Regions from separate parts of the Homo sapiens genome. Here region 2 is linked to region 1. The links come from fine-mapping of genetic effects on gene expression. A gene starts in region 1. The other region holds a variant in brackets. All regions are shown on one strand. Distances are from middle to middle. Region 1 holds the start of PPARGC1A-AS1 (PPARGC1A antisense RNA 1). Region 2 overlaps LOC105374528 (a long non-coding RNA gene).

What was found.
Region 2: its variant is fine-mapped to the expression of PPARGC1A-AS1 in lung (TOPMed, PIP above 0.99).

What each region holds. Positions count from the first base shown.
Region 1 is chr4:23,766,870-23,772,250 of GRCh38, reverse strand. It overlaps PPARGC1A-AS1 (PPARGC1A antisense RNA 1), which reads right to left and starts at 3,157. Exons shown (of 3, transcript XR_925475.3): 1 at 3,115-3,157. It overlaps LOC105374528 (a long non-coding RNA gene), which reads right to left. Exons shown (of 3, transcript XR_925477.3): 3 at 3,204-3,932.
Region 2 is chr4:23,720,784-23,726,164 of GRCh38, reverse strand. The region is part of intron 1 of LOC105374528 (a long non-coding RNA gene); the gene reads right to left. Among named protein-coding and RNA genes, the nearest start is that of PPARGC1A-AS1, 46 kb to the left of the region's middle. RefSeq lists an enhancer at 2,580-3,204. The variant T/C (reference allele first, on the strand shown) is at 2,853.

The DNA of each region.
Region 1 (5,381 bases):
AATAAGTGGAATGCTTTGGAAGGGCTTCTTCATGTAAATAGATATTGCTACCTTCAACTCCTACTGAGTCCTCTCATGGTAGTAGGTTATAAGACATTTAGTGGGCTGAAAATATATATTACCTGGTAAACAAGTGTGTAGAGCACTTATGTGTGATACTGATTCCTTGTCAAACTCAGAGAGACAGAGAAAGAAAGAAAGAGAGAACAGAGGGAAAGAGACAAAGATGGAAACAAAGAGAAAGAGACAGAGATAGAAACAAAGAGAGAGAGAATAATTTCATATGCCTCATTTGGCACTTGAAAATGAAGCAGGAAACCATGGTGTCCCCACCTGGGACCCCGATTCTGTGACCTGCTTTCTGATATGGTCTGGAAATTCTTAACCCAGTGGAACCCAGGGACACAGGTGTTTCATCTTCAGCAGGGTCCTGTCGGGGCCTCTCTACCCGAGGCCTCAGTCCTACACAGAGTACATTCTCCTTGAAGGAGGAAAGGAAGACTCCCTCCAGCTGGGCTGTCACAGAACTGCTATCTCTTCTCTCCATCCCTGCTGGCCTCCAGTCTTTTCTCTGTTTCACTCTTGTTATGGGAGCTGTGAGAAAAGAAAAATCAATTCTCTAGCTAAGGTCAGCCAGTAAAATTTGCTCCTAGGTCCCCTAACCACGGCCTGATGAATCCAGCCACATTTCTCCCAGGTTACAATTCAATAAAGCCTCCTAATGGCCTTTATCATGATTTCCCTCCACACAGGCTCACAGCAGCGCCTTTCATGCTCCCTTATAAACCTCCTTGTAGGGCAATAATTTTGTCTTTTAGTTTTTCTGGATCATTTTGGAGGTGAATTGGGCCAGGGTGCCGGGGTGAGGGTGAGGGCTGAAAAAACAAAACTTTTAGCCGCATCTGGTTATTCCATTTAGTTTTCGCGGCAAATTATTATAGCATAAAAGTAGCTTCAGATGGTGCTGACTGAGGATGGCTTGGCAGGGTTACTCCCTGGGCTTTACCTGGTCCCTGAGTAGTTATGCAGCATCTTTTAAATCATTCGTTCATTTATGCTAGGCCAAGTGTGAGAAATATTTTATGAGCACCTACCATGTGCTAGAGAATGAAGCTGTGGAGAAGAAAGAGTCCCGGATTGTTGCTCCCAATCCAAGTTGGAGAGACAGACCAGTAAGTAAGTCAGTGAGGACATTAGAATAAAAGCATCACAGAGCCCTTAACTGCTTTTCAAGTGGCAAGAGAAGCCCCCGTTTTCCTCCATAGGGGCAGAGAGCATCAGAGAAAATCTTTCTCGGCATAGCTGCCATGAACTGAATCTTGAATGTCAAGGAAGAAGCAGAAGTAGTGGGCTTGCACATATGCTAAAATTCCATATCTGCCATGTGTTAGCCATGTTACCCTGGACCTATTACTGATCCTCTTAAAATGCAGGTTCCTGAGCCCCAAAATAGGTCAGCCTTGCTTGCAGAGTTTTTGTGAAAGTTAACAAAATATAGGTAAGTGCTAGACTTATATCCTTATATCCAACACAAAGTAGATACTCAAGAGATGAAATTCTATTTTTGTTATTATTATGTATAATAATTTTTATTTATTAAGAGTTTATCAAGTATAAACTCAATAATAATTAGAACTTGAGCACGATCCATTGAAGAAATGAAAAGCTTTCAGTTTCACGGATATTTGCAATGGGTGTAGAGGGGAAGGGTAGGAAATCTGGAGCGGAGACATGTGGATGGTTATGCAGGAGCCAGTTCATTGAGAGCCTTCAGTACAAGGCTTAATGCAGTACAAGGCTGTCATAAACTGGCTCCTGCATTAAGAAGTAGGGATTCATTGAAGGTTAACCACTTTTTAGGAAGGGGGGTGTGTAAGTAATTAGATATCCAGATGATGATGTGGCCCTTATTGCCAGCTATCTGATCCCAGCTCATAAAGCCTTGGTTCACTGACCACCTAGACATGGAAAATAAAAACCCAGGCACCACTTTGCCTCTGAAGAATTCTCAGCAATTTTTCAGAAAGTAAAACATCCTCTGTGAAATTCTTGAAGATTTCTCCCCCTCACTCTGAAATGCCCTGAATTTCAAGCAGCTATAATGTTGCTGACTCATTTCTAGTTTCATAAGGATCTGGGTTGACTTGTCATGTTATAAATCTCCAGTTTATGGAATCGCTCCTACTGCTGTAAGGTAGACTTGGAAGTGTGTCAAAGGGATTCAAGGTGGGCAAAACAGAAGTTGAGCTTCAGTCTCATTATTTTGCTTATTTTTTCAGTGAAGGGAGACCTTTGATGATTTTTTACAGGGGCCATTATTTAATTTTCATCTTAAGGAAAAAATGTCAAGCAGTCGACTTTAAAGATATATGTCTATGTAAGACTGATTGTATTTAAAACAAATTTCCCAGAGCTTCCTTTAATCTATTATAGAATCTTTCTATATCATTCATGGCAAAAGTATGTCAGGCCTTTGATGGGAAGCAAATTTTCTCTTTTTAGGATTTTGGTGTGACTTTGTCTATTGTGGACAGGGACATCTAGCCACTTTAAGAAACTGAACACTCAAGCCTATGGGTTACAAAGAAAATGCAAAGGTATGGAAATGTGCAGTAACAGAAAAAAAGGCTGGACTGAAGACAAATATGGCTTATGTTACAATTTTGTTTTGGTTTGTCTTTTCCTAAGATTCAGCTATATTGGCAAAGCCTACAGAATAAACACCACAGGACTTGAATATAAGTTTGCAAGCAATCATGTATCAGGGCAACTCTTTGCTATGGAGAGTAAACTTGTTTATGTCTTTGCATGAGTTCCTCACTCCTTCCAGAATACACAGATGGATGGATGGATGGATGGATGATGGATTGTCAAGAACAGTAGCCCTTACCTGAAAACATAACTCCTTCACTCAGTGTTATATATATATATATTTAGCTTTCAAAAAGATGTAATCTCAGCTGGGCACGGTGGCTAACGTCTGTAATCCCAGCACTTTGGGAGGCTGAGGCGGGCGGATCAACTGAGGTCAGGAGTTTGAGCCTAGCCTAACCAACATGGAGAAACCCTGTCTCTACTAAAAATACAAAATTAGCCTGGCGTGGTGGCACACACCTGTAATCCCAGCTACTCGGGAGGCTGAGGCAGGAGAGTCACTTGAACCGGGGAGGCGGAGGTTGCCGTGAGCTGAGATCGCGCCGTTGCACTCCAGCCTGGGCAACAAGAGCAAAACTCCGTCTCGAAAGAAAAAAAAAAAGGAAAAAAAGAAAGAAAGATATAATCTCTGAATGCACTAATTATTGTTACTAATTTCTTTGAGGTTATTTTGTATTGTTTTGTTTTGCTTTTCTGCTACACCTTGCTTTACTCCCTTCTCTTTCTGGGTTTAATCCTCCTTGGACTAAAGCCAAGGTCAGAGAGAGTAATATGCAGTGCAACAGCCTGCCTAGTAAAACATATCTCTTTATTAGGAAATTGAGCTTCTACCTTTTACCAAGCTGTGGTTTCTTATAAGAAGAAACGCTGACTCATAATACAGGCAAGGTGATGTGTACATGCAAATACACAATTTTATCTTTTAGGCTGATTTCATTAAACAACAGATCTGTGGTATCTGAGAAGCTGTCAAATACTCAGGCTTGATTTTACATAATTATACAATATAGAATGACATTAGCTCTGTATTTTCTTATTGTTGTATCATCTCTCTCCCTCCCTGGAAATGTAAGCTCCATGGGGGGCGAGAGTTTTGAGGTTTTTGTTAACTAATTATACCATCATCTAGAACGGTGCCTAACACTAATAGAAACTCATTAATTATGTGAATAAATGAGTAACTTAGTGCAAAGTCACCATACTCTCCTTTATTTGTTTCCAGTTTTTGCTTCATGCAGGCTTTTGGTACCTCCCTTGGGGAGGGTTCACAGCATCACCTACAATGAGAGAATTTAGGGTTATTTTTCAAGTTCATGTCATTATAACATGGGGAGCTGGGATTTCTGTGCTCATTCTTTCTCCGTGACATCAGCTGATTTTAAGTCAACCTTTCTATATTTTTTACACTCTCTCTTTTTACTTCTGGCTTGGCTTTAATTAGAAGCCCATTTTTTCTTAGTTTTTTTTTTATGTACATACGTTTATTTCCAAAATGTTATTAAACTTAATTTTATGCTTTATTTTGTTCCCCACAAACTATATTACATTTTCTTTGTACCTTCTCATTTGCTCTTCTCCTATGTAATTCTTTCCTTTCAAGTCACCAAACAGCAATTTGTCTGAGTTTCCTGATAACATCTCTCTTTATTTTGGTATCTTCTGAGGTATATTTTAGCCCTTTTTAAATATAGCCTAGATAAAATAAGTACATTTAATGTACTTGGCAAGAAAGTGTTAAGCATTAACTCCTAATAATTCACTCCTTATTAGTCTCCTTTCAGGTAAGTTGCCAGACAGATTTCAAGTGATAAGTGGAAGGTCACTCAAACAAAGATCCATTTTCCTGGATAGGGGAGGGGCAGAGTTTCAAAAGTCACATGTAGAAGCAAATTCCTTCTAATGACAGCTGTAGTTTCTCCAAAATGATAGATAAATAACCTTTTGTGTAGGGTGAGTAGAGTCATCTTTTTATACATAACAGTAAGAATAGTTTTGACCAAGTTTCAGTGTTCAGCTATAAAGACAAAGGGACAGAGATAAAAGCAATTAATTATCAATATAAAGGACATTGATGGTTTGCTGGCTATGGTAATGAGTACAAGTATCATAACTATGAGGCTTTGAATAAATTCAATGAGATTCTGTGTGTCTTCTTGAGTAGGTAGTCTTGAAATGGCAAAGTCAATTAGGACTGAAGGGAAATAAGAGGGTAGAAAACAAGACTAAAACACTCAGTACCTTGTACCCTAACACCCGCTGCAACAACAAAAAGAAAGATATTATCAATTCCCGGATCAGCATGGATTTGTGTTTGAATCATGAACCATACCTGTACAATGTGTGTAAGTAATTGTTAAAAAATACAGTTATGTGGCCAGAGGCGGTAGCTCACGCCTGTAATCCCAGCACTTTGGGAAGCCGAGGGGGTTGGATCACGAGGTCAGGAGATCAAGACCATCCTGGCTAAAATGGTGAAACCCCCCTCTCCACTAAAAAAACAAAAAAAAAACCCAAAAAATTAGCCGAGCGTGGTGGCAGGCACCTGTAGTCCCAGCTACTCAGGAGGCTGAGGCAGGAGAATGGCGTGAACCCGGGAGGTGGAAGTTGCAGTGAGCTGAGATCGCACCACTGCACTCCAGCCTGGGCGACAGAGCAAGACTCTGTCTCAAAAAAAAAAAAAAAAAAAATACAGTTATGTTTTACATCATATACCAACTCCAACTGAT
Region 2 (5,381 bases), 46 kb after region 1:
CTGTCCCCTCAGTCCCAACCCCAAGCGTCGCTGAGTCTTTCTAATCTTCCTTTTCTACAGACCCATCTGACCTCTCCCTTCCTCCCCAGCCTGCTCCTCGCCAGGCAGAGCTAGGTCCCAATTCTTCCTCAGCCTCCGCTCCTCCACCCTATAATCTTTTTATCACCTCCCCTCCTCACACCTGGTCCGACTTACAGTTTCGTTCTGTGACTAGTCCTCCCCCACCTGCCCAGCAATTTACTCTTAAAAGGTGGCTGGAGCCAAAGGCATAGCCAAGGTTAATGCTCCTTTTTCTTTATCCCAAATCAGATAGCGTTTAGGCTCTTTTTCATCAAATATAAAAACCCAGCCCAGTTCATGGCTCGTTCCCCAGCAACCCTGAGACGCTTTACAGCCCTAGACCCTAAAAAGTCAAAAGGCCGTCTTATTCTCAAAATACATTTTATTACCCAATCTGCTCCTGACATTAAAACTCCAAATATTAAATTCCAGCCCTCAAACCCCACAACAGGATTTAATTAACCTCGCCTTCAAGGTGTACAATAATAGAAAAAAGTTGCAATTCCTTGCCTCCACTGTGAGACAAACCCCAGCCACATCTCCAGCACACAAGAACTTCTAAACGCCTGAACTGCAGTGGCCAGGCGTTCCTCTAGAACCTCCTCCCACAGGAGCTTGCTACAAGTGCCAGAAATCTGACCACCAAGCCAAGGAATGCCCACAGCCCAGGGTTCCTCCTAAGCTGCGTCCCATCTGTGTGGGACCCCACTGAAAATCGGACTGTTCAACTCACCTGGCAGCCACTCCCAGAGGCCCTGGAACTCTGGCCCAAGGCTCTCTGACTGACTCCTTCCCAGATCTTCTCGGCTTAGCGGCTGAAGACTGACACTGCCCAATCGCCTCGGAAGCCCCCAGACCATCACGGACGCCGAGCTTCGGGTAACTCTCACAGTGGAAGGTAAGCCCGTCCCCTTCTCAATCAATATGGAGGCTACCCACTCCACATTACCTTCTTTTCAAGGGCCTGTTTCCCTTGCCTCCGTAACTGTTGTGGGTATTGACGGCCAGGCTTCTAAACCTCTTAAAACTCCCCAACTCTGGTGCCAACTTAGACAACACTCTTTTAAGCACTCCTTTTTAGTTATCCCCACCTGCGCAGTTCCCTTATTAGGCTGAGACACTTTAACTAAATTATCTGCTTCCCTGACTATCCTGGACTACAGCTATATCTCATTGCCGCCCTTCTTCCCAATCCAAAGCCTCCTTTGCGTCCTCCTCTTATATCCCCCCACCTTAACCCACAAGTATAAGATACCTCTACTCCCTCCTTGGTGACCGATCATGCACCCCTTACCATCTCATTAAAACCTAATCACCCTTACCCCACTCAATGCCAATATCCCATCCCGCAGCATGCTTTAAAAAGATTAAAGCCTGTTATCACTTGCCTGCTACAGTATGGCCTTTTAAAGCCTATAAACTCTCCTTACAATTCCCCCACTTTACCTGTCCTAAAACCAGACAAGCCTTACAAGTTAGTTCAGGATCTGCGCCTTATCAACCAAATTGTTTTGCCTATCCACCCCGTGGTGCCAAACCCATATACTCTCCTATCCTCAATACCAGCCTCTACAACCCATTATTCTGTTCTAGATCTCAAACATGCTTTCTTTACTATTCCTTTGCACCCTTAATCCCAGCCTCTCTTCACTTTCACTTGGACTGACCCTGACACCCATCAAGCTCAGCAAATTACCTAGGCTGTACTGCTGCAAAGCTTCACAGACAGCCCCCATTACTTCAATCAAGCCCAAATTTCTTCCTCATCTGTTACCTATCTCGGCATAATTCTCATAAAAACACACGTGCTCTCCCTGCCAATCGTGTCCGACTGATCTCTCAAACCCCAGCACCTTCTACAAAACAACAACTCCTTTCCTTCCTAGGCATGGTTAGCGCGGTCAGAATTCTTACACAAGAGCCAGGACCATACCCTGTAGCCTTTCTGTCCAAACAGCTTGACCTTACTGTTTTAGCCTAGCCCTCATGTCTGCGTGCAGCGGCTGCCGCTGCTTTAATACTTTTAGAGGCCCTCAAAATCACAAACTATGCTCAACTCACTCTCTACAGTTCTCATAACTTCCAAAATCTATTTTCTTCCTCATACCTGACGCATATACTTTCTGCTTCCCGGCTCCTTCAGCTGTACTCACTCTTTGTTGAGTCTCCCACAATTACCGTTGTTCCTGGCCCAGACTTCAATCTGGCCTCCTACATTATTCCTGATACCACACCTGACCCCCATGACTGTATCTCTCTGATCCACCTGACATTCACCCCATTTCCCCATATTTCCTTCTTTCCTGTTCCTCACCCTGATCACGCTTGATTTATTGATGGCAGTTCCACCAGGCCTAATCGCCACACACCAGCAAAGGCAGGCTATGCTATAGTACAAGCCACTAGCCCGCCTCTCAGAACCTCTCATTTCCTTTCCATCGTGGAAATCTATCCTCAAGGAAATAATTTCTCAGTGTTCCATCTGCTATTCTACTATTCCTCAGGGATTATTCAGGCCCCCTCCCTTCCCTACACATCAAGCTCGAGGATTTGCCCCCACCCAGGACTGGCAAATTAGCTTTACTCAACATGTCCGGAGTCAGGAAACTAAAATCTTAATCTCTCCCACTCTAGGTTCCCACGCCGACCCTAATGCCGCTTGAAGCAGCCCTGAGAAACATCGCCCATTCTCTCTCTCCATATCACCCCCCAAAAATTTTTGCCACCCCAACACTTCAACACTATTTTGTTTTATTTTTCTTATTAATATAAGAAGGCAGGAATGTCAGGCC[T/C]CTGAGCCCAAGCCAAGCCATCGCATCCCCTGTGACTTGCACGTATACGCCCAGATGGCCTGAAGTAACTGAAGAATCACAAAAGAAGTGAATATGCCCTGCCTCACCTTAGCTGATGACATTCTACCACAAAAGAAGTGTAAATGGCCAGTCCTTGCCTTAAGTGATGACATTACCTTGTGAAAGTCCTTTCCCTGGCTCATCCTGGCTCAAAAAGCACCCCCACTGAGCACCTTGCCACCCCCACTCCTGCCCGCCAGAGAACAAACCCTCTTTGACTGTAATTTTCCTTTACCTTCCCAAATCCTATAAAACGGCCCCACCCTTATCTCCCTTCGCTGACTCTCTTTTCAGACTCAGCCCGCCTGCACCCAGGTGATTAAAAGCTTTATTGCTCACACAAAGCCTGTTTGGTGGTCTCTTCACAGGGACGCGCATGAAACCCGCCACCACGCCCGGCTAATTTTTTGTATTTTTAGTAGAGAAGGGGTTTCACCATGTTAGCCAAGATGGTCTCAATCTCCTGACCTTGTGATCCACCCTCCTCAGCCTCCCAAAGTGCTGGGATCACAGGCGTGAGCCACCGTGCCCGGCCGTAAGTAGTAATTTGAATGATTTCTACGTCAAAGATATGGCTACAGGCCAAGAAAATACAGTGGTGGGTTAACAGACACAGTCTTGGCCCTAAAAAGGTTTACAGTCTAGTGGGAGAAGTAGCCTCAAATAAGGGACTAGACAAATACATATACCATATTTATTTTTATATTAAATTATAAAAGGAAATGACTAAGAATCTGATCTCAGATTTAAAAAAAAAAAATCTGTCTCCACAAAATTGTTTATGTTGTGTGATGTCCCATTCCTTTTGCTCATCTATGTAAATATTATCCAATTTCTTTTGTTTATACATCCTATCACATTGCCCTACACTTAGTAGACATAATAAGTACACAGCATCACAAACAGCAAACCTTTTTGTGGTGCTTTTATGTGTCAGTCATTGTAAAGCTGCTCCATCTAGGCCCTGTGCTGAGGTCCTAACAGAGTAAGAGCCAACATTTGTTGGGTACTTTTTATGTCAGTGATTTTCACATAATATTTATTTAATCTTCATGACAACCTTTTGAGGTATAATTGTTTTTATAGGTTAAGTTGCTTTTCCAAGTTCCTACAACGATTGTCAAGTATCTGCATGCACATATGATCCCAGCTGGTTTTGCTCCATAATGAGTACTCAAAACCACTGTTCTAGTATTATACATAGTCTGAAAATACACTAGAACATATCAGAATGCTTTTCACATATAAAAGAAGGTATTGTTTTGTGAGTGGTTTTCAGTTACAAATGTACTTTTATAGACATAGAATAGGTATGTGTGTACAGGGTCCTAATATAAAATTCATTCCTTATTTGCACCATGAACAAAAAAGCTTAAAAAGCACTGCTACTAATCCACAGAATCTTCTAACATATTGGCGTATAGGAATACACTCTTCATACCATAAAAGTTCACTGTTCAAATGGGCTTTCAGAAGGAGGTAACGCAGCTTTAAAAGTTGACGCACTTGGCCGGGCGCGGTGGCTCACACCTGTAATTCCAGCATTTAGGGAGGCTGAGGCAGGCAGATCACCTGAGGTCAGGAGTTTGAGACCAGCCTGGTCAACATGGTGAAACCCCATCATCTCTACTAATAATACAAAATTTAGCTGGGCATTGTCACAGGCGCCTGTAATCTCAGCTACTCGGGAGGCTGAGGCAGGAAAATTGTTTGAATCTGGGAGGCAGAGGTTGTAGTGAGCCGAGATCGCGCCACTACACTTCAGCCTGGGTGACAGAGATAGACTCCGCTTTGAAAAAAAAAAAAAAAAAAAAAAAGGTTGATGCACTTTCTGTGGTTCGTGAGTTTTTGGAGTCAAAGACAACTGAGTTCTGCCCCCTCGAGCCTAGCCAAGAACGTTGGAGATTCTTGAGAAGTCTTATGTTTCCTCAATGAAAAAGGGGAATAACCAGGTTTTCTTTGCAGGGTTATTATGAAAATATACTGAAATTAAATTTCTTGACATACTACTGATTTTTTTTTCACATAATGATTTATTTTCCTTTCTTTTTTTTAAATTATACTTTAAGTTCTGGGATACATGTGCAGAACGTGCAGGTTTGTTACATAGATATACATGTGCCATTGTGGTTTGCTGCACCCATGAACCCATCATCTACCTTAGGTATTTCTCCTAATGCTATCCCTCCCCTAGCCCCCCACCCCCGACAGACCCCAGTGTATGATGTTCCCCTCCCTGTGTACATGTGTTCTTATTGTGCGGCTCCCACTTATGCGTGAGAAAATGTGGTGTTTGGTTTTCTGTTCCTGTGTTAGTTTGCTGAGAATGATGGTTTCCAGCTTCATCCATGTCCCTGCAAAGGACATGAACTCATCTTTTTTCATGGCTGCATAGGACATACCACTGATTCTTAACAAATGTTATCCTAAGTGACTTCTCTTTTTCCAACACCCCCACAAGTCATACTA